Linked DNA regions of Homo sapiens: region 2 is linked to region 1. Evidence: fine-mapped QTL for protein levels in blood plasma. Region 1 holds a variant in brackets. A gene starts in the other region. All regions are shown on one strand. Distances are between the middles of the regions.

Region 1 (15,717 bases):
ATGTGCCTGTAGTCCCAGCTACTTCAAAGGCTGAAGCAGGAGGACTACTTGAGCCTAAGAGTTTGAGGCTGCAGTGAGCTATGATCACATGGCTGCACTTCAGCCTGGTGACAGAGTGAGGCCCTGCCTAAAAAAACAACAGTAACAACAACAGAAAGGAGATTTATCAAAAGTAGTTTTTTTTTTCTTCTTTTCTTTTCTTTTTTTTTTTTTTTTAAGATAGAGTCTCACTCTGTCACCCAGGCTGGAGCACAATGGCACGATCTCGGCTCACTGCAACCTCCACCTCCCAGGTTCAAGTGATTCTCCTGCCTCAGCCTCCTGAGTAGCTGGGACTACAGGCGCACGACACCACACCTGGCTAATTTTTGTATTTTTAGTAGAGACAGGGTTTCACTATGTTGGCCAGGCTGGTCTCGAACTCCTGACCTTGTGATCCGCCCACCTCGGCCTCCCAAAGTGCTGGGATTACAGACGTGAGCCACTGCGCCCGGCCAAAAGTAGAATGTTTGTGGAAAAAGACTGGATACATAGCTGGGCGCGGTGGCTCACGCCTGTAATCCCAGCACTTTGGGAGGCTGAAGCGGGTGGATAACCTGAAGTCGGGAGTTCGAGACCAGCCTGACCAATATGGTGAAACCCCGTCTCTATTAAAAATACAAAAATTAGCCGTGCATGGTGGCCGGCGCCTGTAGTCCCAGCTACTCTCAGGAGGCTGAGGCAGGAGAATTGCTTGAACCTGGGAGGCGGAGGTTGCAGTGAGCCGAGATCGTGCCACTGCGCTCCAGCCTGGGAGACAGAGCGAGACTCCGTCTCAAAAAAAAAAAAAAAGACTGGATACAAAGAATATGGAGACAGTCTCTGATGATATCAGTGCCTGGTAGTAGGACCTTAGTAAACATGCAAATGCCTGGATAAAAGTAATTGGCATCGATATGGTTTGCTTTAAGCAGAGAACAAGCCAGCCAGGGATCTAGCCCATTAAGAATTCAAGCAGACTCCTAAAGGCACACAAAAGAAATAAAGGGTAAAAGAAATCACTTTAAAACAGGAAGATTTATATAACCCTGTCTGTGTAGAAGAAAAATGTTCCCAGTTTCGCATGCCATTCGCTGCCAGGATCTGAGATTGTTACTAAGAAAGAGATGGGAGGAGGGTGTTGAGGGAAATAAGATGCCAGGCCAGGACACAGGCACAGAGAATTTGACATTTAGGGTTTGAAAAGACCTGGAACAGAAGCCTCTTTTGCTTTTAAGGCTTCTCTTAATTGCCACATTTGAGGCCTGGGATTTATGAAGAAAGCACTTTTCAAAAGGACAATTTACACTTCATTATAGAGAAAGTTCAAGTGCAGTCCCCAATTTCCCCTCTAGTTGCAATCCTGAGCCATTTGTGGAGCAGCTGTGTCAAGTGGGGAGGAGAGCTATAAATGGTTTATAAATCAGTGCACGACGTCACAGATGGAAGCAGTTGCTGCTGCACCGGCTGGCAGCGAAATTGTGAATCAGTCTAAAGTTCTAGAACAATGTGAATCAAACCTCACAGTGAAATGCCCTTAATGGTATTCAACAGCTATGCCCTCACCCCCAGACCAGCCTCAAGGCAAACCACAACAGCCATGCCCTCACCCCCAGACCAGCCTCAAAGCAAACTACACCCCAGTGTGTGTGGGGGCCAAGGAGACTTTTACTTCACCCTTGGAAGGTTCACTGAAAAATCAGCTCACAAAAGGTAGGTTAATTGGAGAAGAAGCATGACATGTATACACAGGAGACTTCCAAATGAAGACCCAAAGATGCAGGGGAAGTTGTCCATTTTTGCGCTTAGATTCGACAAAGTCTGGACAGCCATGTAGAAATAGGATTGGGCAAAAAGGGTCTGCGCTAACGCTCGCTAATAGACAGAGTGGGGAAACCCAGCAAGATCTGTCGGTCTGGATTCTTCTTGGCCTCTCCAAGCAGCATTCCTTCCCTCTAGGTATGGGGCAGGATCCTCTTTCCAATAGGGATCTTATGACCTACAGTCAAACAGGGTAGGCCAGTTTTTTCACAGAATATTTTTAGGTTTTATGGCTGGCTTGGGGGAAAAAGGGTTTTGGTGTCTATGATCTGCCTTGAGGAAGAGGGATTCTAGTTTCTATAACTAGTTCCTGGGGAGAATGGGCCTAAAAGACAGGAGGGCAGAAGGTCAGTGAAAACCTTTAGCCTCTGAGGCTGCTTCTGCAGCCTTCGTCTTGGGGTATCATTTTCTGAGCTCCAACACATGCAAAGGGGTGATATCTGGAAGTTGCTCATTGCAGACTAAGATGGGTAAACTGATGAAAGGAGTCACTTCAAGCCACAGCATCACTGTCCTAGGCCAAAGGAACACTGCCCTTTGTTGAAAACTTGCTGCATTAGGAATTTCCCCTATTCTCTCCTAAGGATCATGAAATCTCAATAATGGCAAAGATATCTAGATCTTGTTGCATGCCAGTCAGAGTTCTAAGTATTTTATATATATTAAATCAATTTTATGTCAATAATTTTATGAAGGTGAGGCCATTATCTCCCATTGTACAGGTGAGGAAACTGAGGCACAGAGATTGGTAACTTACCCAAGGTCACATACCCTAAATGGTAAAGCCATTGTTAGAACCAAGGTGGTTTGGCACCACAGTACACACCCTCAACCACTGTGACATGCTGCCTCTTGGCACCGCAGTACACACTTTCAACCACTGTGACATGCTGCCTCTTTTTGTTATTGTCGTTAATTCAATTTTTTAAAAAATTGAGGCGGGGGCTAGAAGCGGTGGCTTATGCCTGTAATCCCAGCACTTCGGGAGGCCAAGGTGGGCATATCACTTGAGGTCAGGAGTTCAAGACCAGCCTGGCCAACATGGCAAAACCCCATCTCTACTAAAAAATACAAAAATTAGCTGGGTGCGGTGGTGGGTGCCTGTAATCCCAGCTACTCAGGAGGCTGAGGCAGGAGAATCGCTTGAACTGGGAGATGGAGGTTGCAGTGAGCTGAGATCGCGCCACTGCACTCCAGCCTGGGCGAAAGAACGACACTCTCCCTTAAAAAAAAAAAAAATGAGATGGGGTCTTGCTACATTGCCTAGGCTGGTCTCAACTCCTGGGCTCAAGAAATCCTCCCACTTCTACCTTCCAAAGTGCTGGGATTACAGGTGTGAACCACCATGCCTGGCCCTGTGTGTGTGTGTGAGACAGGGTCTCACTGTCGCCCAGGCTGGAGTACAGTGGTGCAATCTCGGCTCACTGAAACCTCTCCCTCCTGGGTTCAAGTAATTCTTGTGCCTCAGCCTCCCGAGTAGCTGGGATTACAGGTTCCTGCCACCACGCCCAGCTGATTTTTGTATTTTTAGTACAGACGGGGTTTCACCTTGTTGGCCAGGCTGGTCTTGAACTCCTGACCTCAGATGATCCGCAAGCCTTGGCCTCCCAAAGTGCTGGGATTATAGGTGTGAGTCACTGTGCCCTGCCCTTTTTTTTTTTTTTCAAATTGAGGCTGCTGCCTTTCAGAGGGGGTGCCATCTGAGCTATGCTGAGCTATCCCTTGTCACATCCCCCCTCCCTTCCTCTTCATTCAAGGAATTCTGATGAGGCTGCCATCTTCATTGGTAACCAGCAGTGGAGACTTTGACTAGGTATGAGCCAGTCGGACATCAGCCTTGCCCTGACCTCAGTGATGTGGGCGGGACCCAGGCTGGGGCTGTGATGCAGTGAGAACCAGTGAGTCACGATGAGACTTTTCCTGAGGCCTCTGAAGTTCTCTGTTCTCTGCTGATTTTGGATGGCAGGGAGTTCAGCAAGGATCTACTGGAGCCCTTTCACTACATGAGGGGAAGCTGCCTGAAGGGAAGTCGACAAAAACAGAGAAAATAGCAAAAAGGGGACCTGGGCTGCAGACCAGGACCCACAGCAGTGACTGGGGCATCACCAAGAGCACATAGTGTTGGACTCATGTCACATAATATAAATGGGCCCTGAGACTGGGAAGGGCAATATTGCCATCACCTCATTTGAATCCTGAATCCAGCCACTCCTGAAGTGTCAAATACCTCCACACTCCATGAGCCAATGTATATGTTTTTAAAAGGCAATATGAGTGGGGTTTTCTGCCACTTGAATAATAATGCATCCTAATCAAAACAATCTCAATGAGCCTAGCAAAAACCGAGCCAGAAAGCCCATTAGTTACCAATGCTGGGATGGAACAGTAAGTCTGTCAGTCAAAAATGAAACTGTGAATCAAGGTCCTCACCATGCTAAACAACAGAGAAAGAGCCAGGAACATGTTTCTAAAATCCTCAACCATTCTCAAGCTTTACATTTTTGTACAAATGGAGAATGGCAACAGCACAGATAATCCCTCACAACTGCATTAAAGGATTCACTTTCATGATTGCATTTCACTCTGGTTAATGTTAAAATGACTATGTCCCATCCTCAGCAGACTCCGGTGCATGGTCCTCAGCCCTGCTGAGATGGCATTTAAGTCAGCCAGGCATCCAAAGGGAACCCAGAGACAAGGGGACTTTAGCCTCATCTATGTGTTCATCTCTTATGAAGGAAGGTCATATAATTGAAAGTTATCTTTAAAAAGTTGAAGTCAGGGGCTGGGCATGGTGGCTCACGCTTGTAAATCCCAGCACTTTTGGGAGACCGAGATGGGAAGATCACTTGAGCTCCGGAGTTCAAGACCAGAGGCTTGGCAAAATAATGAGACCACATCTCTACAAACATGAAAAATAAAAAAATTATCCAGGTGTGGTGGCGTGTGCCTGTAATCCCAGCTACTCAGGAGGCTGAGGCAGGAGGATCACTTGAACCCAGAGGTCAAGGCTGCAGTGAGTTGTGATCACACCACTGCACTCTAGCCTGGACAACACAATGAGACCCTGTCTCAAAATTAAAAATAAAAATAGGCCAAGCATGCTGGCTCACACCTGTAATCCCAGCACTTTGGGAGGCCGAGACAGGCGGATCATCCGAGGTCAGCAGTTCAAGACCAGCCTGACCAACACAGAGAAACCCCGTCTCTACTAAAAACAAAAAAAATTAGCCAGGCATGATGACATATGCCTATAATCCCAGCTACTCAAGAGGCTGAGGTAGGGGAATCACTTGAACCCAGGAGGCAGAGGTTGCGGTGAGCCAAGATCACACCATTGCGCTCCAGCCTGGGCAACAAGAGCTAAACTCCATCTCAAAAATAAATAAATAAATAAATAATAAAAATAAAAATAAAAAGTTTGAGTTAAAGAACAAGTCATATAATTACACTATCTTAGATGAATGTTTTTATACTTTTTTTTAAAGTAGTGGAACCCTCAAATAAAACCTGATATGAAACACTGTAATAAACATGTGTTATGTTTTGCCTTCTTTGGGTGTAGAATCTAATATAAGGTAGCTTGCTTCCTGGGAACCACATCCTATTCACATCTGAGTGTGGTTCCAGCACATGGTCCTGGCCTGGCCATGGGGGCAAATATAATAATTTGCTTCCTGAGCTCTCATGGTTCTTTTTCCCTTCATAATTCTGGAAAGACACAGCAGTGGTATAGTTTTTTGATCTCCTAGAATCCACCTTGCAGGAAAAAAAAAAAAAAAAAAAAAGGCAGAGCAACTAGATGGTAAAACCAAAAACCTATGAAGAGCATTTTCAACAAAGCCAGATTATAAGGTATCCCCATGAACTGTAAAAGGTAAGAGCATGACGACAACAATTCCCACCACTATAAGATCTATATGATATTCGCATTTATATAGAATAATGCAGAGGGAAGAGATAGGGCACCTCAGGGGCCAGCAAACAGGTCTTCGCAGGAGGGCAGAGTGAGCCAAACTGAGAAAAGCAGCTAAAGTGGGAGGTGTTCTGCATGCTTCAATATGGGTGAGTACAAGGAGTCTCTGATAAGACTGGAGGGGTTGGAGCAATTGAGGCAACATCAACTTTTTTTTTTTTTTTTTTTTTGAGACGGAGTATTACTCTGTCACCCAGGCTGGAGTGCAGTGGCGCAGTCTCGGCTCACTGCAAGCTCCGCCTCCCTGGTTCACCATTCTCCTGCCTCAGCCTCCCGAGTAGCTGGGACTACAGGTGCCCGCCAACATGCCCGGCTAATTTTTTTAATTATTATTATTTTTAGTAGAGATGGGGTTTCACCGTGTTAGCCAGGATGGTCTCAATCTCCTGACCTTGTGATCCACCCGCCTCAGCCTCCCAAAGTACTGGGATTACAGGCATGAGCCACCGCGCCCGGCCGCAACATCAACTTTTAAAGCAATTGTCTTAGTCCTTTTGTGTTGCTATGAAGAAAGACCTGAGGCTGAGTAATTTATTAAGAAAAGAGGTTTATTTGGCTCACAGCTCTGCAGACTGTATAAGAAGCATGACGCCAGCATCTGCTTCTGGTGAGGCCTTAGGAAGCTTCCACTCATGGCTGAAGGGGAAGGGCAGCCAGCATGGGCAGAGATCACATGATGAGAGAGAGCAGCAAGAAGAGAGAGGAGGAGGCACCAGGCTCTTTATAACAACCTACTTTCTTGGGAACTAGTAGAGTAAGAACTTACTCATTACCACAAAGAGGTCACCAAGACATTCATGAGGGATCCACCCCCATAACCCAAACACCTCCTGTTAGGCCTTGCTGCCAACGCTGGGGATCAGATATCTTTTTTTTTTTTTTGAGACGGAGTCTCGCTCTTTTGCCCAGGCAGGAGTACACGGCACAATCTCGGCTCAAGTGATTCTCCTCCCTCGGCTTACTGAGTAGGTGGGATTACAAGTGTGAGCCACCACGCCCAGCTAACTTTTGTATTTTTAGTAGAGACAGGGTTTCACCATGTTGGCCAGGCTGGTCTCAAACTCCTGGCCTCAAGTGGCCTCCTAAAGTGTTAAGATTACAGGCGTGAGCCACTGCCCGGCTGGGGATCAAATTTCAACATGAAGTTTGGAGGTTTAAATATTCAAGCTACAGCACTAATCAACCAAGCTCCCTTCCACAAAACAGATAAACAGTATAAACTAGTATTTTGAAACTAGCTAAAAGACATTTTGAAAGATACAAAGAACAACATACATACGTAAATCAGAACTAGAAAAATATAGCAATTAGGTGATAAAACTCAAGGAAAAAATAGTAATAAATAAAAAATTTATTTCAGAAATGAAACTAAACCAGAAGGAAAACAAAAGTAAATAAATAAGCTGGGCACAGTGGCTCACACCTGTAATCCCAGCACTTTGGGAGGCTGAGGCAGGAAGATTGCTTGAGCTCAGGAGTTTGAGCAACATAGTGAAACCCCATCTCTACCAAACATTAAAAAAAATTAGCCCGGCATGATGGTGTGTGCCAATAATCCCAGCTATTCCGGTGGCTTAGGTGGGAGGATCACTTAAGCACAGACTTCAGTGAGCTGTGATTGTGCCACTGTACTACAGACATAGTGAGGCCCTGTCTCAACAACAACAACAAAAAAGTAGATAAATGCTACAAGTATTGCCTGATAAGAAATAGAAGGTGAAAAAAATTAAAATTGAAAATAAGGAAAAAAGAAAACAAAAAGTATGTGCAAAAAAGTGACAAATATTGAAGCCATGCAAATAAGATCTCTGAAAATAATTAAAAATCTAAGCTATTGGAACTCTAAATTATTTTGAGCCTTAGAGGAATGTTACCTGACAGGCAACTGTAACTTAGGCAGCTGTAACCCTTTGCTTCTGATTATAGATTAGTCTTATTACTTACCTACATTGTTTTGTAAAATGTTTCAAATGACTAAAGGGCATCAGGAAAGACTCTTCACTGTTGATCTTCATTATAGATTGACTTCCCTCTTACCTTTCTCACATAGACTTTTTGGCCATCACATTGTCATAAAATGGAATGCTAAATACCTTAAATTGGAAAGGAGGGCCAGGAGGTGGCTCACACCTGTAATTTCAGCACCTTGGGAAGCCTAGGTGAGAGGATTTTTTGAGGCCAGGAGTTTGAGACCAGCCTGCTCAACAGTGAGATCCTATTTCTTCTTATTATTTTTTTAAAAATTAACCAGACATGGCGGCAAGCACCTGTAGTCCCAGCTACTCAGGAAGCTCAGGTGGGAGGATCCCTTGAACCTGGGAGGTCAAGGCTGCAATGAGTCATGTTTGCACCATTGTACTCCACCCTGGACGAAAGAGGAACATCCTGTCTCAAAAATAAATAACTATGTAGGAAAGGAAATGAAAACCAGTTGTAAAGAAAAGAAACCAAGCCATATAGAAAAGGAAAGAAGCTGTAACTAAATGGTTGTTAACTCATGAACCAGCCTCATATAGAAAATGATCCTACTTCTTTGTTTTCTGCCTACTTAAGCAAGAACTTAACTCTCAACTTCAGAACACTGACCCCATTTCCCTACACGCTGTGTCTCCCAGATAGTCATTCCCAACATTTTGCTTTAATAAACTCTTTAAAACTGGATTCTGGGCGGGGCACGGTGGCTCACGCCTGTAATCCCAGCACTTTGGGAGGCCGAGGCAGGCGGATCACGAGGTCAGGAGATTGAGACCATCCTGGCTAACATGGTGAAACCCCATCTCTACTAAAAATACAAAAAAATTAGCTGGGCGTGGTGGTGGGCGCCTGTAGTTCCTGCTACTCGGGAGGCTAAGGCAGGAGAATGGCGTGATCCTGGGAGGCGGAGTTTGCAGTGAGCTGAGATAGTGCCACTGCACTCCAGCCTGGGTGATAGAGTGAGACCCGTCT[CAA/C]AAAAAAAAAAAAAAAAAAACTGGATTCTGATCCTTTTGATTATTTCAGATTGGCAGTTCCAACATATTATAAATAGAAGTAACTGCAAAAGAAAACCAGATTAAAGGAACAATGTGGCAAATACCAAAAACTATAATTGGTTTTGTTTGTTTGTTTGTTTTTTGAGACACAGTCTCACTGTATTGCCCAGGCTGGAGTGCAGTGGTGTGATCTTGGCTCACTGCAACCTCCACCTCCCAGGTTCAAGCGATTTTCCTGCCTCAGCCTCCCAAGTAGCTGAGATTACAGGTGTGTCCCACCACACCCAGCTAATTTTTATATTTTTAGTAGAGACAGGGTTTCACTATGTTGGCCAGGCTGGTCTTGAACTCCTGATTTAAGTGATGCCCCAGCCTCAGCCTCCCAAAGTGCCAAGATTACAGGCATGAGCCACCATACCCAGCTCAAAACCTATAATTCAAGACAACTTTCTTAAAGATTACATATTGGCTGGGCATGGTGGCTCATGCCTGTAATCCCAGCACTTTGGGAAGCCAAGGCAGGTGGATCACTTGAGCTCAGGAGTTGGAGACCAGCCTGGGCAACATGGTGAAAACCCATCTCTACAAAAAATACAAAAAGTAGGTGGGTGTTGGGGCACACACCTGTAGTCCCAGCTACTCAGGAGGCTGAGGCAGGAGGATTGCTTGATCCTGGGAGGTTGAGGCTGCAGTGAGCTTATTGCACCATTCCCTCCAGCCTAGGTGACAGAGTAAGACCCTGTCTCCAAAGAAAGGAAAGTGTGAGCCAAGATTTTGTATCTGAGTATAAGGGACACAAACACTAACAACCTCTCAACGTGCAAAAACTCAGGCATCTTGCTTATAATCATGGTCACTTTGAGGGAGGGATGGTTATGATTGGGATGTGGTATGTGGATAGTTTCAGAGGTAGCTGGAAGTTCTATCTCTAGTCCTGAGTTGTAGCTGTAAGGGTGTTCATTTTTAATAATTTACCATATGTATGTTTGGTGTTTTTTAAATATCTGTGTTATGTTATATAATAAAAAGTTTAAAAAATAATGATGAAATAAAATATATAATAATTACATTAGGGAAACTTGAATATGGACTGGGGTAGTATTATGAAACTATTGTTAAATGTGTACATATAATATAATGGTATTGTAGTTATGGAGTAGAATGTTCTTATTTTTGGAGATACATATTGAAGAATTTACTATAATTTATTTTAAAGGCTGGGCATGGTGACACATGCCTATAATCCCAACTACTCAGGATGCTGAGGCTAGAGGATGGCTGGAGCTCAGAAGGTTGAGGCTGCAGTGACCCCTGATTGCATCACTGCACTCCAGTCTGGGCAACAGAGCGAGACTCTGCCTCAAACAAACAAACAAAGAAACAAGCTTGGAGTGTCACCAGCAAGATGGTGGACTAGAAAGCTTCAGGTCCTTGTTTCCACTATGGAAACATTAAATGAACAACTAGAAACTGGCTAAAATAACTTAATAGGGACTGTGGAAATCAATAAAAAGACCAGCAACTGAGTGAATGCACATCTAAGAAAAAGCCACATTAAAAATGGAAGGAGCCTGGCATGATGGCTCAGGTCTGTAATCCCAGCACTTTGGGAAGCCGAGGTGGGCGGCTGACTTGAGCCTATGAGTTTGAGACCAGCCTGGCCAATATAGTGAAACTCCATCTCTACTAAAAATACAAAAACTAGCCAGGCATGGTGGCACATGCCTGTAGTCCCAGTTACTCAGGAGGCTGAGGCAGGAGAATGCTCAAGCCTGGGAGGTAAGAGGTTGCAGTGAGCTGAGATCACACCACTGTGCTCCAGCCTGGGCAACACAGCTAGACTCTGTCTCAAAAAAAAAAAAAAAAAAAAAGGAAGGAAGTTTCATGTTTTGTTTACTGTATTAGTTTGTTTACACATTGCTAATAGAGACATACCCAAGACTAGGTAATTTATAAAGAAAGGAGGTTTAATAGACTCATAGTTCAGCATGGCTGGGGAAGCCTCAGGAAATTTACAATCATGGCAGAAGGGGAAACAAACACATCCTTCTTCACATAGCAGCAGCAAGGAGAAGTGTAGAGCAAAGGGGGCGGAAAGCCCCCTGTAACACCATCAGATCTCGGCCGGGCACAGTGGCTCACACCTGTAATCCCAGCACTTTGGGAGGCCAAGGTGGGTGAATCATGAGGTCAGGAGCTCAAGACCAGCCTGGCCAACATGGTGAAACCCCATCTCTCCTAAAAATACAAAAAATTAGCTGGGCGTAGTGGCGGGCGCCTGTAATCCCAGCTACTCAGGAGGCTGAGGCAGGAGAATCACTTGAACCTGGGAGGTGGAGGTTGCAGTGAGCCAAGATTGCGCCACTGCACTCCAGTCCAGGCAACAGGGTGAGACTCCATCTCAAAATAAATAGACAAGTAAATAAATAAATAAATAAATCCATTAGATCTTGTGATAACTCACTCACTATCATGAGAACAGCATGGAGGTAACCACCCCCATGATTTAATTACCTCCCACTGAGTTCCTCCTACGACACATGGGGATTATGGGAACTACAGTTCAAGATGAGATGTGGGTGGGGACAAAGTCAAACCATATCATTCTGCCCCTGGCCCCTCCCAAATTTCATGTCCTCACTTTCAAAATGCAATCATGCCTTCCCAACAGTCCCTCAAAGTCTTGACCCATTCCAGCATTAACTCAAAAGTCCAAGTCCAAAGCCTCATCTGAGACAAGGCAAGTCCTTTCTGCCTATGAGCCTGTAAAACCAAAAGCAAGTTAGTTACTTCCTAGATACAATGGAGGTAGAGGCATTGGGTAAATACACCCATTCCAAATGGGAGAAATTAGCCAAAACAAAGGGACTACAGGCCCCATGCAAGTCCAAAATCCAACAGGGCAGTCACTAAACCTTAAAGTTCCAAAAGATCTCCTTTAGCTCCATGTCTCACATCCAGGTTATGCTGATGCAAGGGGTGAGTTCCTACCACCTTGGGCAGCTCCACTTTTTTGGCTTTGCAGGGCACAGCCCCCTCCCGGCTACTTTCATGGGCTGGTGTTGAGTGTCTGCAGCTTTTCCAGGTGCATGGTGTAAGCTGTCGGTGGATCTACCATTCTGGGGTCTGGAGGATGGTGGCCCTATTCTCACAGCTCCATTAGGCAGTGCCCCAGTGGAGACTCTGTGTGGGGGCTCCAACCCCACATTTCCCTTCCACACTGCCCTAGCCGAGGGTCTCCATGAGGGCTCTACCCCTGCAGCAAAATTCTGCCTGGACATTCAGGTGTTTCCATACATTCTCTGAAATCTAGGCAGAGGTTCCCAAACCTCAATTCTTGACTTCTGTGCACCCACAGACTCAACACCATGCAGAAGCTGCCAAGGCTTTGGCTTGCACCCTCTGAAGCCATGGCCCAAGCTGTACCTTAACCCCTTTTAGCCATAGCTAGAGTGACTGGGATGCTGGGCACCAAGTCTTGAGGCTGCACGCAGTAGGGGGGCTCTGGACCCAGCCTAGGAAACCATTTTTTTCTCCTAGGCCTCCTTCCAGGCCTGTGATGGAAGGAGCTGCCATGAAGGTCTCCGACATGCCCTGGAGACATTTTCCCCATTGTCTTGGTCATTAACATTTGGCTCCTTGTTACTTATGCAAATTTCTGCAGCAGGCTTGAATTTCTCCTCAGAAAATGGGTTTTTCTTTTCTACTGCATCCTCAGGCTGGAAAATTTTCAAACTTTTATGCTCTGCTTCCTCTTGAACACTTTGCTGCTTAGAAATTTCTTCCACCAGATACACTAAATCATCTCTCAAGTTCAAAGTTCCACAGATCTCTAGGGCAGAGGCAAAATGCTGCCGGTCTCTTTGCATAGTAACAGTGACCTTTGCTCCAGTTCCCAACAAGTTCCTCATCTCCATCTGATCACACCTCAGCCTGGACTTCATGGTCCATATCACTATCAGCATGTTGATCAAAGCCACTCAACAAGTCTCTAGGAAGTTCCAAACTTTCCTACATCTTCCTGTCTTCTGAGCCTTCCAAGTCTCTATGAAGTTCCAAACTTTCCCACATTTTTCTGTCTTCTTCTGAGCCCTCCAAACTGTTCCAACTTCTGCCTGTTACCCAGTTCCAAAGTCGCTTCCACATTTTTGGGTATCTTTACAGCAGCGCCCCACTCTCTGTGGTACCAATTTATTGTATTAGTCTGCTCTCATGCTGCTAATAAAGACATACCTAAGACTGAGTAATTTATAAAGAAAAGAGGTTTAGAGGCTAGGTGCAGTGGCTTCATGCCTGTAATCCCAACACTTTGGGAGGCTGAGGCGGGTGTATCATGAGGTCAGGAGTTCAAGACCAACCTGACCAACATGGCAAAACCTTGTCTCTACTAAAAATACAAAATTAGCCAGGCTTAGTGGTGGACACCTGTAATCCCAGCTACTCAGGAGACTGAGGCAGGACAATCGCTTGAACCCAGGAGGTGGAGGTTGCAGTGAGCGGAGATCATGCCATTGCACTCCACCCTGGGCAACAAGAGCAAGACTCCATCGGCAAGGCAAAGCGTTTAGGTCAGGCACGGTGGCTCACGACTGTAATCTTAGCACTTTGGGAGGCTGAGGCAGGCAGATCACAAGGTCAGGAGATCGAGATCACACTGGCCAACATGGTGAAACCCCCGTCTCTACTAAAAATACAAAAAAAATTAGCTGGGTGTGGTGGTACATGGCTGTAGTCCCAGCTACTCAGGAGGCTGAGGCAGGAGAATTGCTTGAACCCGGGAGGCAGGAGAATTGCTTGAACCCGGGAGGCAGAAGTTGCAGTGAGCCTAGATCGTGCCATTGCACTCCAGCATGGCGATGGAGCAAGACTCCATCTCAAAAAAAAAAAAAAAAAAAAAGAGGTTTAATTGACTCACTGTTCAGCATGTCTGGAGAAGCCCCTCAGGAAACATACAAGCATGGTGGAAGGGGAAGCAAACACGTCCTTCTTCACATGGTGGCAGCAAGGAGAACTACAGAGCAGAGCAGGGGAAAAGCCCCTTATAAAACCATCAAATCTCGTGAGAACTCACTTACTATCATTAGAACGGCATGGAGATAACCACCCCCATGATTCAATTACCTCCCACTGGGTCCCTCCCATAACATGTGGGGATTATGGGAGCTACAGTTCAAGATAAGATTTGGGTGGGGACACAGCCAAACCATATCACTTGCCCTACCTGTGTTTATGCCACCGAACTCCAGCTTGGGTGACAGAGTGAGACCCTGTCTCAAAAAAAAAAAAAAAAAAAACCAAGAGCAACAACAACAAACCCTCAAACAATGGAATTGGCTGGAGCATTTCTTCATCTCTGAGAGGCTCTGACCATAATAGGGTTCTGGATACTCTAGACTAGTACAAGATTGTCAGGTCTTTGTAAAATTTGTATTTTTCTCATATTTTTTGGTATACTCTGTTTCCCCAAACTGTTCAAAAGCTGAGATCCTCTGCTCTCTGTGTCCCGAGGCAACAAGAAAGGAGAGCTCTGCATTGGTGGCCAAACTGTCTAACCAAGTATCTAATCCAGCAAGCTGAGTACCTGAGTCTAAGGCAAAAAAGAAAAGCTAAGGCTGGGTGTGGTGGCTCACACCTGTAATCCCAACACTTTGGGAGGGTGAGGCAGACAGATCACGTGAGGTCAGGAGTTTGCAACCAGCCTAGTCAACATGATGAAGCCTCATCTCTACTAAAACTACAAAAAATTAGCTGGGCATGGTGGCACGTACCTGTAGTCCCAGCTACTCGGGAGGCTGAGGTGGGAGAATGGCGTGAACCAGGGAGGCGGAGCTTGCAGTGAGCCGAGATCATGCCACTGCATTCCAGCCTGGGTGACACAGGGAGACTCCATCAAAAAAGAAAGAAAGAAAGAAAGAAAGAAAGAAAGAAAGGAAGGAAGGAAGGAAGGAAGGAAGGAAGGAAGGAAGGAAGGAAGGAAGGAAGGAAGGAAGGGAAAGAAAGAAAAGCTGGGAGCTGGAACCAGAGCCTTGCAGCTAGATGAACACATCCAGCTCATCCCCAGCTTATGAGCTGGCACTTTTCTTTGCACTTGTAGGGAAGGAGCCTGTGGCCAGCAGCCCCTGGCCTCATCTGTCTGGGGCTTGCTTGCATCACTGCCGTATCATCTATCACAAACAGTCCTCAAAAGCCTATCCTTGGCTGGGTGTGGTGGCTCATGCCTGTAACCCCAGCACTTTGGGAGGGTGAGGCAGGCCAATTACCTAAGGTCGGGAGATCAAGACCAGTCTGACCAACATGGAGAAACCCCGTCTCTACTAAAAATACAAAATTAGCCAGGTGTGGTGGCTCATGCCTGTAATCCCGGTTACTCAGGAGGCTGAGGCAGGAGAATTGCTTGGACCAGGGAGGTAGAGGTTGCAATGAGCCGAGAAAACACCATTGCACTCCAGCCTGGGCAACAAGAGCGAAACTCTGTCTCAAAAAAAAAAAAGCCTATCCTCCTCTCCTGTCCTGGAATCTGGCTCTATGTTGGCCCCTTTCAGCCACGCTGGGACGCAGGGCACCAAGTCCCTAGTCTGCACACAGCACGGGGACCCTGGGCCTGGCCCACCAAACCATTTTCTCCTAGCCCTCCGGGCCTGTGATGGGAGGGGCTTCCATGAAGGCCTCTGACATGCCCTGGAGACATGTTCCGCATTGTCTTGGGGGTTAACGTTTGGCTCCTACTTACTTATGCAAATTTCTGCAGCCGGCTTGAATTTCTCCTTGGAAAATGGGTTTTTCTTTTCTATTACATGGTCACTGCAAATTTTCCAAACTTGAATGCTCTGCTTCCACTATAAAACTGAATGCCTTTAACAGAACCCATCTCACTTCTTGAATGCTTTGCTGCTTAGAAAATTCTTCTGCCAGATACCCTAAATCATCTCTCTT
Region 2 (15,717 bases), 16 Mb before region 1:
TGGTGGCACTCACTTCTGCGATAGCCTCACTGGGGTGGATGAAGACCAGAAGCCAGCCACTGGCCAACCCAACTCCTCTTCCCACTCTGCCAATGCTGTCACTGGCTGGCAGGCTGGGGCCGCTCACACATGCTCTGACTGTGGGCATTCTTTCCCCCATGCCACTGGCCTGCTGAGCCACAGGCCCTGCCACCCACCAGGCATCTATCAGTGCTCCCTCTGCCCGAAGGAGTTTGACTCTCTGCCTGCCCTCCGCAGCCACTTCCAGAACCATAGGCCTGGGGAGGCGACCTCAGCACAGCCTTTCCTCTGCTGCCTCTGTGGCATGATCTTCCCTGGGCGGGCTGGCTACAGGCTTCACCGGCGCCAGGCCCACAGCTCCTCTGGCATGACTGAGGGCTCAGAGGAGGAGGGGGAAGAGGAAGGAGTGGCAGAGGCAGCCCCTGCACGCAGTCCACCACTGCAGCTCTCGGAAGCAGAGCTGCTGAATCAGCTGCAGCGGGAGGTGGAAGCGCTGGACAGTGCAGGGTATGGGCACATCTGTGGCTGCTGTGGTCAGACCTACGATGACCTGGGGAGCCTGGAGCGTCACCACCAAAGTCAGAGTTCTGGGACTACTGCAGACAAGGCTCCCAGCCCCTTGGGAGTGGCAGGTGATGCCATGGAGATGGTCGTGGACAGTGTCTTGGAGGACATAGTGAATTCTGTCTCTGGAGAGGGTGGAGATGCCAAGTCTCAAGAGGGAGCAGGCACCCCCTTGGGAGACAGCCTCTGCATCCAGGGTGGGGAAAGTTTGTTGGAGGCTCAGCCCCGCCCCTTCCGCTGCAACCAGTGTGGCAAGACCTATCGCCATGGGGGCAGCCTGGTGAACCACCGCAAGATCCACCAGACTGGAGACTTTCTCTGCCCTGTCTGCTCCCGCTGCTACCCCAACCTGGCTGCCTACCGTAATCATCTGCGGAACCACCCTCGCTGCAAAGGCTCTGAGCCCCAGGTTGGGCCCATCCCAGAGGCAGCAGGTAGCAGTGAGCTGCAGGTTGGGCCCATCCCAGAAGGAGGCAGCAACAAGCCCCAGCACATGGCAGAGGAGGGGCCGGGGCAAGCAGAAGTCGAGAAGCTCCAGGAAGAACTTAAAGTGGAGCCCCTGGAGGAAGTGGCCAGGGTGAAAGAAGAGGTGTGGGAGGAGACCACTGTGAAGGGGGAGGAGATAGAGCCCAGGCTGGAGACTGCCGAGAAGGGCTGCCAGACTGAAGCCAGCTCTGAGCGGCCCTTCAGCTGCGAGGTGTGTGGCCGATCCTACAAGCACGCCGGCAGCCTCATCAACCACCGGCAGAGCCACCAGACCGGCCACTTTGGCTGTCAGGCCTGCTCCAAGGGCTTCTCAAACCTCATGTCCCTCAAGAACCACCGGCGCATCCATGCAGATCCCCGACGTTTCCGCTGCAGCGAGTGTGGGAAGGCCTTCCGCCTGCGGAAACAGCTGGCCAGCCACCAGCGGGTCCACATGGAACGGCGTGGGGGTGGGGGCACCCGAAAGGCGACTCGGGAAGATCGGCCCTTCCGCTGTGGGCAGTGCGGGCGGACCTATCGCCACGCCGGCAGCCTCCTGAACCACCGGCGCAGCCACGAGACGGGCCAGTACAGCTGCCCCACCTGCCCCAAGACCTACTCCAACCGCATGGCCCTGAAGGACCACCAGAGGCTGCACTCAGAGAATCGGCGGCGACGGGCTGGACGGTCCAGGCGCACAGCTGTGCGTTGCGCCCTCTGTGGCCGCAGCTTCCCTGGCCGGGGATCTTTGGAGCGGCACCTGCGGGAGCATGAGGAGACAGAAAGGGAGCCAGCCAATGGCCAGGGAGGCCTGGATGGCACAGCGGCCAGTGAGGCGAACCTGACTGGCAGCCAGGGACTAGAGACCCAATTGGGTGGTGCTGAGCCAGTACCCCACTTGGAGGATGGAGTCCCAAGGCCAGGGGAGCGCAGTCAGAGCCCCATCAGGGCAGCAAGCTCAGAAGCCCCAGAGCCACTGTCCTGGGGTGCAGGGAAGGCAGGTGGGTGGCCGGTAGGTGGGGGACTGGGGAATCATAGTGGAGGCTGGGTTCCTCAGTTCCTAACTAGGTCAGAGGAGCCAGAGGACAGTGTCCACAGGAGTCCTTGCCACGCTGGTGACTGCCAGCTCAATGGACCTACTCTGAGTCACATGGATAGCTGGGACAACAGAGACAACAGCTCTCAGCTGCAGCCAGGGAGCCACTCCTCTTGCAGCCAGTGTGGCAAGACTTACTGCCAGTCAGGCAGCCTCTTGAACCACAACACCAACAAGACAGACCGACACTATTGCCTGCTCTGCTCCAAGGAGTTCTTAAATCCTGTGGCCACAAAGAGCCACAGCCACAACCACATAGACGCCCAGACCTTTGCCTGTCCTGACTGTGGCAAAGCCTTTGAGTCCCACCAGGAACTGGCCAGCCACCTGCAGGCTCATGCCCGGGGCCACAGCCAGGTGCCAGCCCAGATGGAGGAGGCCAGAGATCCCAAAGCCGGGACTGGGGAGGACCAGGTGGTTCTCCCTGGTCAAGGGAAAGCCCAGGAGGCCCCATCAGAAACCCCCAGAGGCCCAGGAGAGAGTGTGGAGAGAGCCAGGGGAGGACAAGCGGTGACGTCCATGGCGGCTGAGGACAAGGAGCGGCCCTTCCGCTGCACCCAGTGCGGGCGCTCCTACCGCCATGCTGGCAGCCTGCTGAACCACCAGAAGGCCCACACCACAGGGTTGTACCCGTGCTCCCTCTGTCCCAAACTTCTCCCTAACCTGCTGTCTCTTAAGAACCACAGCAGGACCCACACGGACCCCAAGCGCCACTGCTGCAGCATCTGTGGCAAGGCCTTTCGGACAGCTGCCCGGCTGGAGGGCCACGGGCGGGTCCATGCACCCCGGGAGGGGCCTTTCACCTGCCCCCATTGTCCCCGCCACTTCCGCCGCCGAATCAGCTTCGTGCAGCACCAGCAGCAGCACCAGGAGGAGTGGACGGTGGCCGGCTCCGGTAGGGGGCATGAAGGGTCCCAGGAGGAGGTGGGCACACAGTGGAGGGGGAAGTCCAGCCCCAAAGTCGGTGGGGGAGCAAGGAGTGAGAGGAGAGAGCCCCGGGGATTCTAAGAGGTGGGTGGGGGCTTGGCTATGGGGTGAGAGAAGTAGCTTGAGGATGTGCTGAGCTGAGCACCCGCAAGTCAGGTATAACAAATAGCAGGGTGGGTTGGGCAGCACGTGGGGGCGTGGTCAGGCCGAGGCTGCTACCTGGGCTCCTCCATTACACTGTAGCCAGAATGGAATGGTCTTTCTGTTCAGGGGAAGGTCACTGGGTACCCCCTGGCTGCTGTGTCTGGAAACCCTCCTGAGTCAGCCAGTAAAGTAATGACTTCCAGAGAAAAAGAGGAAGCCATTGGTTTGGTCTAGGTTCCATTCTTTCCTGGAGCAGGCCGGGTGCCAGGGAACAAGGGATGGGGCATGGGCTCCACGGCTTCCCTGCTGACTTGGCCACGGAAACTGGTTCACTGGTTGGCACCCTACTCCCTGTCCCTCTTTCCCTGCGCCTTGTCTCTGCTGCTCCTCTCCTTGGAAACTAGACCTCTGGTCCTTCCCTGTCAGTGTTGCTCCCATCTCTTCTCTAACCTTTATTCAGCCCCTTTTCCCTCTGCTGCCAACGGCCTTTTTAGGATCCAACCAAACCACCCTTTCTACCTGCGCACCCTGCCACCCTCTGCACACCTTTAACTGGAGGACTGAGTCACAGATAATTGTTTCCTTGAAGTCCAGGCCCAGCTGCAGCAACAACAGTCATTAGCCCGTGTCACATCCCTGATCAGAGGGCATCTCCGTGGGGAATCGCCTCCACCCAGCACTGCTGGAAGCCGCAGCTGCCAGGGAGTGGGGCGGCCGGTTCCCTCAGCAGGACCTGGGCTGGCCTCTCCACCTCCCCTAGTAGAGGCGGACCCATTCCATCTAGTGGCCACCGAGGGTGGGTGGCCCTGAGATGGTGGGCCCTTGACAGGCCTTGTCAGAGCAGAGGGCAGGTGGGAGTCACCTGAAAGCTGAAGGAATGGCTTTAAGGATAGAAGATTTCTCATGACCTCAAGGGATATGAGGGAGGAGCCAGTTTGCCAGGGCTGGGAAAATAATTAGGAGGCCTAGAATCCCTGTTCTCATCTGGGCCTCCGGGGCCAGGGGCAGGGGAATGGCCTGCAGGGCTGGGAGGGGGTACACGCTGTGCGGGGTCTGCCCCTCAGTTGGTGACCTCCTCTCTCTCTCCCCCCAGGAGCCCCAGTGGCACCAGTGACGGGCAGAGGGGACTTGCCATTGCCCCCTCCACCCACCCCCACGACCCCACTCCTGGATCCTTCACCCCAGTGGCCTGCAGACCTCAGCTTCTCCCTCTGAACTTCAAGTCTCCAAAGATCAGAATCTGGGGGAGGGAGCGCGTGCAGGGAGGGGCTTGATCTCCACATTTTCTCAGGAGTAGTTCGGGCATCCCCATATCTTCTCCTCTCCCCTTGTGAAGAGGACCCAGATCTGGCTTCTTTCCCAAGGAGGGGGTGGGGTGTTCCTCGCGTCCCTGTCCTTGAAGGACCTCCTTCCCCCAGCCTCATCACCGTGCTCTTCTCAGCGCCACCCTCAGCAGCCAGATTGCAACACCAGGGAGAGGCGGATGCAGAGCCCCACCGGTGGGAAAGTTGCCTGTGGAAGGGAGCCTTTTGCTACAATTTGTAACTTATTTTCTAAAGTCTATTTTGTAACAATTTATTTAAGTTTAAAAAAAGGAAAACTGCTGCCCCCCAAAAAAAGAAATTTTCAAAACAACGTGGCTGGCGTGATTGTATCTGAAAGGGTAAAGGAGGAGGAAAGCTGAGACGCCTGCTTGGTAGCAGAGTTGGGTGTGGGAGTGTCCACAGACACCCCTGTCCTGCAGGGTGGGGAGTGGGCACCTGTGGCCCCAGGCAGGTTCCTTCCCACAGCTGCTGGGCTTCTGGGCCTGCCCTGGTGCCTGGAATCACACATGACAGGGTGGGGAGGACAGGGGCAGTAATGCCATTTGCCTGCCTGCATTCTCTTGTCCTGAGAATGGCCAGGTCCCCTGTCAGCAGCTGGTTGGTTGGCCTGTGGGGAAGGAAGGAGGGTGGAGTTGTCCTCATCCTCACGGCTTTGGTCCCTCCCTCCCTCCCCATTCCTCGAAGGAACAGGGTCTGTCTTGGCCGCCATGACAGATGAGAATACTGAGGCTCAAAGCGGTTGAGCAGCCTGCTCCAAGTCACACGATGACAAAGAACCAGAATCTGAATCAAATGGGTCTGCCTGTTGCTCCACCCTACCCAAGGCAGCTGGAGTGGGTTAGAACGGCACGTTCTCACTGGAGAGAGAAGGGTCCTGGAGAGGCAGGGTTTGGCAGGAGGCCCCGGGGCCACATACTTATGTTGGCCAGGCAGCTTCCAGGCTCAGCCTCGGGCTCTGGTTCCTCGGCGAAGTAGACCTGCCAGTCCAAACTGCTGACCCAGTCCTCATAGGCAGGGAGCGCGGTGAAGACCGCCGGCCTGGCGGGGCCTTGGCAAGCATCTCCGAAGCTGTGCAGCCCGGCCAGGAACCATGTGCCCCTCACCTCATGCACCAGTGGTGCCCCAGACAGGCCCTGTCAGGGGTCAGGTGACACTGGGTGACTTTTTATAGGCAGCTGTGCAGGACGGTAGAGCAGGCTAGGGAACCTCTGGCTGTTTGGGGGCTAATTGGCAAAAAGGCTTAGTTTCAGGTGGGAGGTGGGTCCAGAGGCCAAGCCTGGAAGGTCCGTTCTTGAGCTATTGGGTGAGGGGATGCCAGGGGCCTGTTAGGTAAGGTGTGGGGGCCTGGGGCTCACCTCACAGCTGGGCAGCTCACCCACAGCACTGGTACACACCATCCCCGGCAGAATAGGGCTGCCATCACCCCCAGGAGCTGCATGCAGCCGGCTGCAGGCCCTAGGCCCCAGGAGGGTCACGGGCACTGTCTGGAGGGAGCTGATGCCTGTGGAGCAAGGGAAAGCTGGCTGCCCCGGCCTGCAGGTTGGATGGACAGCAGCCCTGGCCCTGTGCCCACCTACCTGCTCCTGGGCGGGCCCGTCCCAGAACCCAGCCACGCTCCCCATCAGGCAGGTGGTGGTCAGGATAGGGCAGGCAGAGGGGCCGCAGGCTGGCTCCCAGTGTCACAGGCTGGGCCAGCAGCAGGAGGGCCATGTCGTAGCCCCCCTCAGGGTGGGTGTAGGCTCCATGCAGGATGAGCTGCTTCAGGCCCCACTCCTCCGGTCTGGTCCCCAGCCCTACGCTCCATTCCTCTGGGGCCTGGCGCCTGTGCAGAGGCAGTGTGGACGGCACCAGGTGACAGGGCTGCCGGCAGGGGCAGGGGGCACAGCAGAGAGGGATCCAAGACTCACCCAATGAAGCAGTGGGCAGCAGTTAGCACCGCCTCCTCTGACACCAGGGCTCCGCCACAGGCCAGCTGTCCCTGGTGCATCAGCCTGGCCTCCCAGGGCCATGGGGAGGGTGCTCCTGCCTGGGGACCTGCTGTCCTCAAGGATCCACAGGCTGAAACAGATAAGTGCCTCATCTGACTTCTTGCTAAGCACTTCCCACTTCCCATCAAATCCTCACAGTAGCTTTTGAAATTGAATTTTGTTCCCCTCATTACTGAAGGTAACCAAAGTTCCAGAGAGGTTAAGAGACTTCCTTGCTCTGTAACTACAGGCAAGTGGCAGACTTGCGATTCGCAAGCCAGGGCCTGAGCTTTTAGCCCTGTTGGTCTGATGGGACCCCTGTCCCAGCCTCGTGGGAATGCCCCTACTTGTCACTCCCCTGCTCCACCCGTCTGCACCCTCCAGGATGGGCCTGCCTCCCGTATTCCTGACTCATTAGTGCATCTCTTATCATCAAGACATAATATCCGTCCCAGGAATTACTTTGCATTCAATTTGCATGCCAGTCACTTAATGCCGGAATTCTGACTGGGAGCCCTACCCTGTGCAGGCTCGCTGGGTCCCTGCTGGAAGCCTGCCACTTCCCCAGAAACCCAAGTCAGGTCTCAGAGATTCCTCTTCTCACCTAAACTCCAAACCTGTAGAGTTCCAAAGTGCCTGTGCCTCTCAGCCCTAACAGGGCTGTTCCCATCCCAGGGGGTGAAAGAGCCCCCTAATTAGGCTCGGCGGTGTGGATGCCTATGCCAGTTCTCTAGTCCTAACTGAGGTTTGCTTCACAGTGGCTTCTGCCCACTCCCAGCATGCCCCACTCGTACCTACACAGCTGTCCTCATCACTCATCTCCGGGGTCTCTGGGCTCTGGGCCAGGAAAGCTGCCCCCTGAACTCGAGCCTGCAGCCAGGAACTGTGAGCAGCTGTGTTGGTCAGCAGCACAGGAGCGTCCTCCTGGGCACAGCTTGATGCAAAGCTGATGATGCCAGCCTGAACCCAGTGTCCGTCAGGCTCGAGGCACAGCACAGGGCCCCCGGAATCTCCCTGGAGCCAGGCAACAAAGCCAAGGACAGATGCCTGAGCCCAGCTATGGCAGACACCCTCTGATTGCAGGTCTTTCCCCCAGTCCTGTGAGTCCAACCCCCAGCCCAGGGTTAGGCCCCTCCCCTTCTGCTCCTTCTCTTCTCCCTATCAGACCTGACAGGGGCCCTGCACCCCAGGCTGGGGGCCCCCACATAGCATCCCAGGCCGGGCCGGGTTGGACAGGTGTCGCTGGTGCAGCTGGTTGTAGATACAGTTACATGTGGGGCGACTGATGAGACGCAGGCGCAGATTGCGTAGGGTCCCAGGAGCTGGTGAAAGAGACGGGGCTGGGGCTAGAGTCTGGGATCTGGGAAGCAAGGGAGACTGGAAGCCAGGACAGTTGGGAGCTGAGACTGTGACGCTGGGCAAGCAGAGTGCCTCTCCGAGCTTCAGTCTGGGCCAGCACTTACCATCACTGGTGTCCTGATCCCAGCCAGTGGCCCAGCAGGAGGCTCCAAAGGGGAAGCGATGGGCGGGCTGGGGCAGGCAGAGGGGTGTGTGGGTCGTGGGGTGGGCGAGCTGCAGCAGGGCCAGGTCTGAGCCCTGGCTGTAGTGGTTATAGGCCCTGGGCAACTGCAGGGCAGCCACCCCCACCTCTTCGGCCCCAGGGCTGAGTCCCTCACGCTGCAGAGAACCCAGGACCACTGACCAGGAATTCAGTTCTGTTGCTGCTGCCCTGGAAGGGGAAGGACAAGGTCCAGGCTGCTGAGTGCAAGGGTAGACAGTGACACCATGGGAGACCCCACAGGTAGGTGGAAGATAGCAGAGAGCACTCCACGGCTTTTTCTTTTTGAGGTAGGGTCTCGTCCTGTCGCCCAGGCTGCAGTGCAGTGGCATGACCATGACTCACTACAAGCCTTGACCTCCCAGGCTCAAGCGATCCTCCCACCTCAGCCTCGTGAGTAGCTGGGACTACAGGCGTGCACCACCATGCCTGGCTAATTTTACAGTTTTTGTAGAGACATGGTCTTGCTATGTTGCACAGGCTAGTCTTGAACTCTTGGGCTCAAGCGATCCTCCCTCCGTGGCCTCCCAAAGGGCTGGGATTACAAGCGTGAGCTACTGTGCCCGGCCTCAGTCTGTGACTTTAAGCGAGGTCATTCCCTTGCAACCTGAGTTTTCTGATTTGTAAATCTTCTACCATGAAAGGTGGTTGTTACAATTAACTTGACAATATGTACCCAGTACATGGCAGATTCTCAGTAAATGGTTCTTTATTATTACTCTAGAGGCAGGGACTAGCCTTGTGGGGCTTGAGACAAATTGTCCACTCCCCAGAGCCGGAGACCCTGCCTGACCCCAGCCATGACTTACTTTTCAAAGCAGTGGGCAGCAGTGAGGACCCAGGTGTCTGCCACCAGGGAGCCGCTGCAGATGTGGGCTCCTTGCCTCCTCACACTGGCCTGCCAGGGCCACTCGCCAGGGACTGTGTTGCCCTCCTGAGGCTTGGGGGGGCCGGGGCCACGCTGTCCACAGGCTGTGGAAAGGAGTTAGTCACACTGACAGCAGATACCTGTCCTGACCTCACCCCAGTCCCAACCCAGACCCAAGTAAGACCTAGGCCCCGTGTCCCCAGACCTTACCACGCTGAGCGGCTTGAAGACCTGGGAAGAGAGAGACACAGGTAAGATGCAGGGACTCCAGGCCTGCCTAGCTTTGGGGAGGAGAGGGGATGGGCTGGGGGGCGGGCCCAGGGTCCTTGCCTGTGACTCTGATTACCTTACCAGCCCCTCCCAGAATGAAAATATTTATATGAGGCCGAGACAGCTTTTATTGGAACCTATTCAGTGTGCACACTCAGTAATTAATTCTCCTTCAGCTGTGCTCAGCACTCTGGGGCTTGGGGTTCAGCTTGGGAGTAGGCCAGCCCTCCTCCAGGCTTCAGAACCCCCAACTCCTGCCCCCGCCACTGAGTCAGCCAGGCGGCCTGTGTGTGTAGAGAGCATTAGCTTAATTGTCCTCTTAGCAGCAGAGGCCTAAGAGGAAGGATTAGAGGCCTGCATCATTTCCAAGTGGGGAGGGCCCCAAGAAATGGAGACTTACCTCACCCTGGTCTAGAGACTCAGTCTTCCCCACCTTCCCAGAAACTGTCTGAGAGCCCGCCAGAGAGAGGGCCCCTGCCCACCGCCCCTCACAGGCACACAGGCACCCCATGAGACAGCTGAGCCAGGCTGCCCAGAGGATGGATGAAAAGAAAGGGAAACTGAGGCCAGAGGAGCCCAGAGTTTGCCTGACGTCATTGTGGAAGTCGAGGGGGAGGCAGGCACAGGACACACGCAGGCAGCACCTCACACACACACAAGACCACAGGCCCCGCCAACGCAAACTGCAGCTGGCCCGAGAAAATCTCATCCATGTTGACACAGGTGGCCACATATACCACCCCACAGAGTCCTACGGAGTTACATCCCCACTGGTGGACTGTCGCCCACAGGCGGTCCCCCCACCAAGAAGCAGGGACTGCTGGGGCAGAGATGGCCCCTGAGCCCCCACCAGGCCACACCCATACCCCAGCACATGGCGGCTTACCCTCCATGAGGACTGTGGCACCCGCGATGAGCAGCACTGGGCCCCAGCACCACTTCATGCTGCCCCGGGCCACTCTGCCACCTGTGCTCCACTCTGAGAGAGGCCACCTGGGTCTCCCTGGCTCCACCTCTGCTCCACCTCCAGTTGGCTAGGATTCAGCTGTCTGCTTGCCCTAGCCAGCAGTTCCTAGCTCTGGGGCTGTGGCTGTGTGACCCTAGGCTTGTCACCACCCCTCTCTGGGCCTTAGCCGTGGAGCCAAATTGTCTGGGTTTAAATCTGTTTCCTTACTACTTGAGTGGCCTGGGAGAGCTAACCTGCCTGTGCCTTGTCTGAGAAACAGTTGTTGAATGGAAAACGTCTCAATGACAGCCTGGCACAGGGCAAGCTCACTCCCAGCATGAAAGTGCCATCCTGGAACCATGGAGGGCACGTGGGCAGCTCCTCCCAGTCCCCACTTTTCATTTCCACTCCCCCACTTCTCTTCCAGCCAGGGCTAGGTGGGTTTCACATGCCTTCTCCCAGGTCTGCTCAGAGACAGTGTGTGCCAGGCTGAGTGGTGAGGAGCCAGCACCCACTGCTGCTTGCTCGCTGTGAGCCTTTGGCAAATCCCAGTATCTCCCTGGGCCTGCTGGCTTCCTGGGAAACAGGGTGACAGCGGTGCCCACCTTCCTCATAGGCGCAGAGGACTCGGTCAGGCGGGAAGAACACTTTGGCGCGTGCCTCCTCTTCCTCTTCCCACTCCTAACTCAGGCTGGCCCAGACCATTCAAGAACCCTGACCCCAAGACAGAGGCAGCTGTGGGTAAGGTTTAGCATATATTATAGATGCTGGCCGGGCATGGTGGCTCACGCCTGTAATCCCAGCACTTTGGGAGGCCAAAGCAGGCAGATCACCTGAGGTCGGGAGTGCGAGACCAGCCTGACCAACATAGAGAAACACTGTCTCTACTAAAAATACAAAATTAGCCAGGCCTGGTGGCGCATGCCTGTAATCCCAGCTACTCGGGAGGCTGAGGCAGGAGAATCACTTGAACCTGGGAGGTGGAGGTTGTGGTGAGCCGAAATTGTGCCATTGCACTCCAGCCTGGACAACAAGAGCGAAAGTCCGTCTCAAAAACAAACCAACAAAAAAAAAAGCATATAGATGCTGGAGCCAGATGGACCAGGTGGATTCAAATCCTGAGAGCCTCCTGCAGTAGCTGTGTGATCTCAGGCATACTAATTAGCCACTCTGTCCCTATCATCAAGATAGGGATAATAATAGTACCCACCTCATAAATCACTGTAAAGATTAAACGAGTTTAACACGTTAACACAAGTTTTTTTTTGTTTTTTGTTTTTTTTTGGAGACGGTCTTGCTCTGTTGCTCAGGCTGGAGTGCAGTGATCATGGCTCACTGCAGCCTCAACCTTCTGGGCTCAAGCAGTCTTCCCGCCAGCTTCCCGATTAGTTGGGACTATAGGTACATACACCACCATGCCTGGCTAATTTTTTTTTTTTTTTTTTTTTGTAGAGACAGGGGTCTCACTATTTTGCCCAGGCTGGTCTGGAACTCCTGGCCTCAAGTGATCCTCCTGCCTTGGCCTCCCAAAGTACAGGGATTACAGGTGTGAGCCACTGCACCCTGCCAACACAAGTTCTTAAACAGTGCTTGGCATGTAGGTAAGTGGTCAGGGCATAATAGGCAAAACAAAAACCTTCACAACCTGGCCCTGACCCTCCAAGGCTACCAATACTGGCTTGGAATGGTCGATAAGGCAACTGGAGGGGTTAAAGTTAAACTCAAGGAAGAACTTCCCAGCAAGCATTTACAGAACCAGAAGGGCAGCCTGCCCTTCCAGGTGTGTGCTCAGCCTTCCCAGGAGAGGAGGCCTGGCTCCTGTGGGCAGCAGGAGCGAGCTGCCAGCCTGTTTCCTGGGGGTGGGGGCCAATGGTGCCCCAGGCCTTGCTGACTCCACACACTGGAGATGAGACTACCCATAACCACCCTTCCCAGCAGGCCCTCCACTCTCCCTCTGACTCACCCTTCCCAGCTCCAGAGAAGGCAACACCGAGGGAGGCCCAGCACCACAGTCCATGGCAGACACATGGTTCAGACTTGGCTGATTGATCTAAGAAACTTTATTGCTCAGAACCTTCCCTCCCTGGGCAATGGAAAGAGCTTTGGAGACCAGCCCATGGGGACAGAGTCAGAGGCACTGGGTGTAAAAAAGAGCGAGCGTGTGGCACATTTGGTCCATTGTCATGTGCGGGTATGGCAGGAGGAGGGGGTAATCTAGAAGCCCCACATCTAGGGCCTTCTAGGGACCCAGATATGCCCCCTTAGGCAAGGCTCACATGCCAAAGCAAAGCAGATGAGGTCAGCCTGGCTTGGGTTGAGGGCTCAGTGCCTCTTAGCCTTGCCCTGGGGTTCTTGGACCTTCCGGAAACTGAGCCACATCAGGCTCACGTTGATAGCATAGGTGGTGATACAAACAATGCAGAAATCATAGAGCACGAAGAACAGGATCCAGGCCAGGTAGACAGAACCAGCGAGAGACACCAGGGAGCTCAGCAGCATCAGGACAGAGGCCCAGCGTGTCCGCAGGCAACCTGCAAGGCAGAAGAGGGTCCGGTGTGGGCTTCAGGCACTGGCCACCTCCCGAACACTCCATGATGTCACTGCACTACCTAGATGCCAGGAGCTGCTGGGAAGGGTCTCTAAAACAAGAGGCTCCAGGGCAGATGTGGTGGCTTACGCACGTATTCCAAACACTCTGGGAGGCCGAGGTGGGAAGACTGCTTTAGGCTAGGAGTTCAAGACCAGCTTGGGCAACATAGAAAGACCCGATCTCTATCAAAAATTTAGAAATTCAGCTGGGCACGGTGGCTCATGCCTGTAATCCCAGTATTTTGGGAGGCCAATGGGGGTGGATCACCTGAGGTTAGGAGTTCGAGAGCAGCCTGGCCAACATGGCAAAACCCCATCTCTAATAAAAATACAAAAATTAGCCGGGTGTGTTGATGGGCACCTGTAATCCCAGCTGCTGGGGAGGCTAAGGTGGAGAATCGCTTGAACCTAGGAGGTGGAGGTTGCAGTGAGCCGAGATCATGCCACCACATTCCAGCTTGGGCAGCAAGAGCAAGACTTCGTCTCAAAAAAAAAATGCCCGGTGAGGTTGACTCACGCCTGTAATCCTAGCACTTTGGGAGGCCAAGGCGGATGGATCACCAGGTCAAGAGATTGAGACCATCCTAGCCAACATGGTGAAACCCTGTCTCCACTAAAAATACAAAAATTAGCTGGGCGTGGTGACACGCGCCTGTAGTCCCAGCTACTCAGGAGGCTGAGGCAGGAAAATTGCTTGAACCCGGGAGGCAGAGGTTGCAGTGAGCCAAGATCGTGCCACTGCACTCCAGCCTGGTGACAGAGCGAGACTATGTCGCAAAAAAAAAAAAAAAAAAAAAAAAAAAATTAGCTGGGTGCAGTGACATGCCTATAGTCCTAGCTACTCAGGAGGATCGCTTGAGCCAGGTTACAGTGAGCTATGATTGTGCCACTGCACTCCAGCCTGGGCAACAGAGCAAGATTATTTCTTAAAAAAAAAAAAAAAGAAGGCTTCAACAGGTCCCCTCCAAGGGACTGGTCTCTGAAGCTCTTGCCATTGCCCAGGGAGGGAAAGTTCTGAGCAATAAAATTTCTTAAATAAATCGGCCAAGTCTGAACCATGTGTCAGCCAGGACCATGGTGCTGGGCCTCCCTCAGTGATGCCTTCTCTGGAGCTGGGAAGGGTGACTCAAAGGGAGCGTGGGAGCCTGCTGGGAAGGGTGGTAATGGATAGTCTCATCTCCGGCATATGGCATCAGCAAGGCCTGGGGCGCCATCGTCTTCCACTCCCTTGGTTCCTCTCTCTGTTCTTATGGGACTAGATACAAATTTTCCTGCTGAGCACTAAATGAGACAAAAGATAGCTCATGCTCAGCTTCTCCTTAAAAAGGAATTTCGGCATCTTTTCCACAAAACTGGGGTGTTGGTGGGGCATGGTAGCTCACGCCTGTAATCCCCCCAGCACTTTGGGAGGCTGAGGCAGACAGATTGCTTGAGACCAGCCTGGGCAACATGGCGAGACACCATCTCTACCAAAAAAAAACAAAAACAAAAATTAGCTGGGCATAGTGGTGCACGCCTGTGATTCCAGCTGCTTGGGAGGCTAAGGTGGGAGGATCCCTTGGGCAGGGAGGCAGAGGTTGCCATGAACTGAGATCACGCCAGTGCACACTAAGGGCATCCTAGACCTCACTTTGGGCAACAGAGCCAGACCCTGTCTCAAAACAACAACAAACAAAAAACCTGGGGACCTAGGATGTCTTTAAGGGCCCTTCAGCCTCTAACAGTACTTAAACCAATTAAAAGACTCCTGTTAGTTACCTCCCCACATCCCCACCCGCAGGACGCTCCGTGATGAGCAGCTAGCTGGCTGTCAGCTGTGTGGATCACCAAGATTGCATGGAGTGGGGCTGAGCTGACCAAGGGGGATGAGGGGCGGGGCGGGGCGGGCAGGGAGGGGGCGGAGCCACTCACCTAACAATAGCTGTAGTGTGTAGAAGATGCAACCGAATATGCTGTTGGATTGATTGAGGATGCTGTCCTGTCCCAGCACATGCTCCACCAGCCCGAAACCCCTGCCCCACCTGGCAGAGGGGTGGGGTGGGGTGGAACCAGGTTAGGACTGTCAACCCAGTGCCTTGGACCCTGCCCGAGAAAGGTGATTTCCAAGAAGCCACCTGGGCTATCCTCTGTTCCCCGACCTCCCATCCTAGTCCAAGGGTCGATGATCTCCTGGCACCGGGCACCTTTGGCCACGTCAGGATTCCATGTCACTGACCCTATCCTCCCCTCTCCCCAGACCAGGCCCGGACGTGGCTACTCCGTAGGCCCTGCTTTTCATCTTAGACCTTAAGTAAGTCTCTTTTTTTTTTTTTTTTTTTTTTTTTTTGAGACGGAGTCTCACTCTGGCCCAGGCTGGAGTGCAGTGGCGCGATCTCGGCTCACTGAAACCTCCGCCTCCCGGGTTCAAGCGATTCTCCTGCCTTAGCCCCCCCGAGTAGCTGGGATTAAGGCACCCGCCATAGCGCCCGATTAATTTTTCTATTTTTGGTAGAGACAGGCTTTCACCATGTTGGCCAGGCTGGTCAACTCCTGACTTCAAGTGATCCATCCGCCTCGGCCTCCCAAAGTGCTGGGATTACAGGAGTGGGCCACCGCGCCCGGCCCTTAAGTAATTCTTAAAATGGCAAGGCTGGTATAACGGTTCACTCGGTTTTGCATCAGAGACTGGGAGTCGGGGGCAGATTATCTTTGCCCTGGACCCCAGAATCTCCAGCTCCCTGGCCACTCACTCGCCTCCTCTGTATTCCGTCATTATGCTAACGCCTGGCCATCACGCACAGCCAGACCGGGCCACCTTGTTCCTGGGCGCAGCCATCGCCAACACCCCCCTTCACCTGCGCGCCGTCCTTGAGACCATCGTCAATCTCTACCGCCATCCTGCCTCCCCGCCTTTCCTGGTCACCGTTATTCCTTGGCATCCAATTCACGTGCGAGTCCCCGGAATAATCCCAGTCCCCAGCACTGTCTGGTCCCTTGC

Which allele goes with the higher level. Alleles are on the strand shown, and positions count from the first base shown. The strength of an association depends on the size of the effect and on how common the allele is.
In carriers of allele C in region 1, the plasma level of the protein whose gene starts at base 10,283 in region 2 tends to be higher than with CAA alone (moderate association).

What was found. PIP is the posterior inclusion probability: the model's chance that the variant is causal. Protein levels are from antibody-based Olink assays in UK Biobank. Linkage for the fine-mapping came from a reference panel and not from the study's own genotypes, which makes the PIPs less certain.
Region 2: it holds the start of PRSS53, and the variant in region 1 is fine-mapped to the plasma level of the PRSS53 protein (UK Biobank, PIP above 0.99).

The regions. Positions count from the first base shown.
Region 1 is chr16:46,856,353-46,872,069 of GRCh38, forward strand. No RefSeq gene overlaps it. Among named protein-coding and RNA genes, the nearest start is that of GPT2, 20 kb to the right of the region's middle. RefSeq lists enhancers at 3,565-3,859, 8,215-8,344, 12,974-13,580, 13,581-14,186. The variant CAA/C (reference allele first, on the strand shown) is at 8,762.
Region 2 is chr16:31,078,661-31,094,377 of GRCh38, forward strand. It overlaps PRSS53 (serine protease 53), which reads right to left and starts at 10,283. Exons shown (of 11, transcript NM_001039503.3): 1 at 10,092-10,283; 2 at 9,146-9,166; 3 at 8,877-9,039; 4 at 7,973-8,238; 5 at 7,677-7,831; 6 at 7,304-7,523; 7 at 6,450-6,600; 8 at 6,120-6,364; 9 at 5,898-6,043; 10 at 5,459-5,675; 11 at 4,777-5,149. The coding sequence starts at 10,149. The coding sequence ends at 5,130. VKORC1 (vitamin K epoxide reductase complex subunit 1) reads right to left here. Exons shown (of 3, transcript NM_024006.6): 2 at 14,652-14,761; 3 at 12,194-12,682. The coding sequence ends at 12,474. It overlaps ZNF646 (zinc finger protein 646), which reads left to right. Exons shown (of 3, transcript NM_014699.4): 2 at 1-3,041; 3 at 4,311-5,536. The coding sequence ends at 4,432. RefSeq lists enhancers at 9,960-10,460, 14,362-15,070.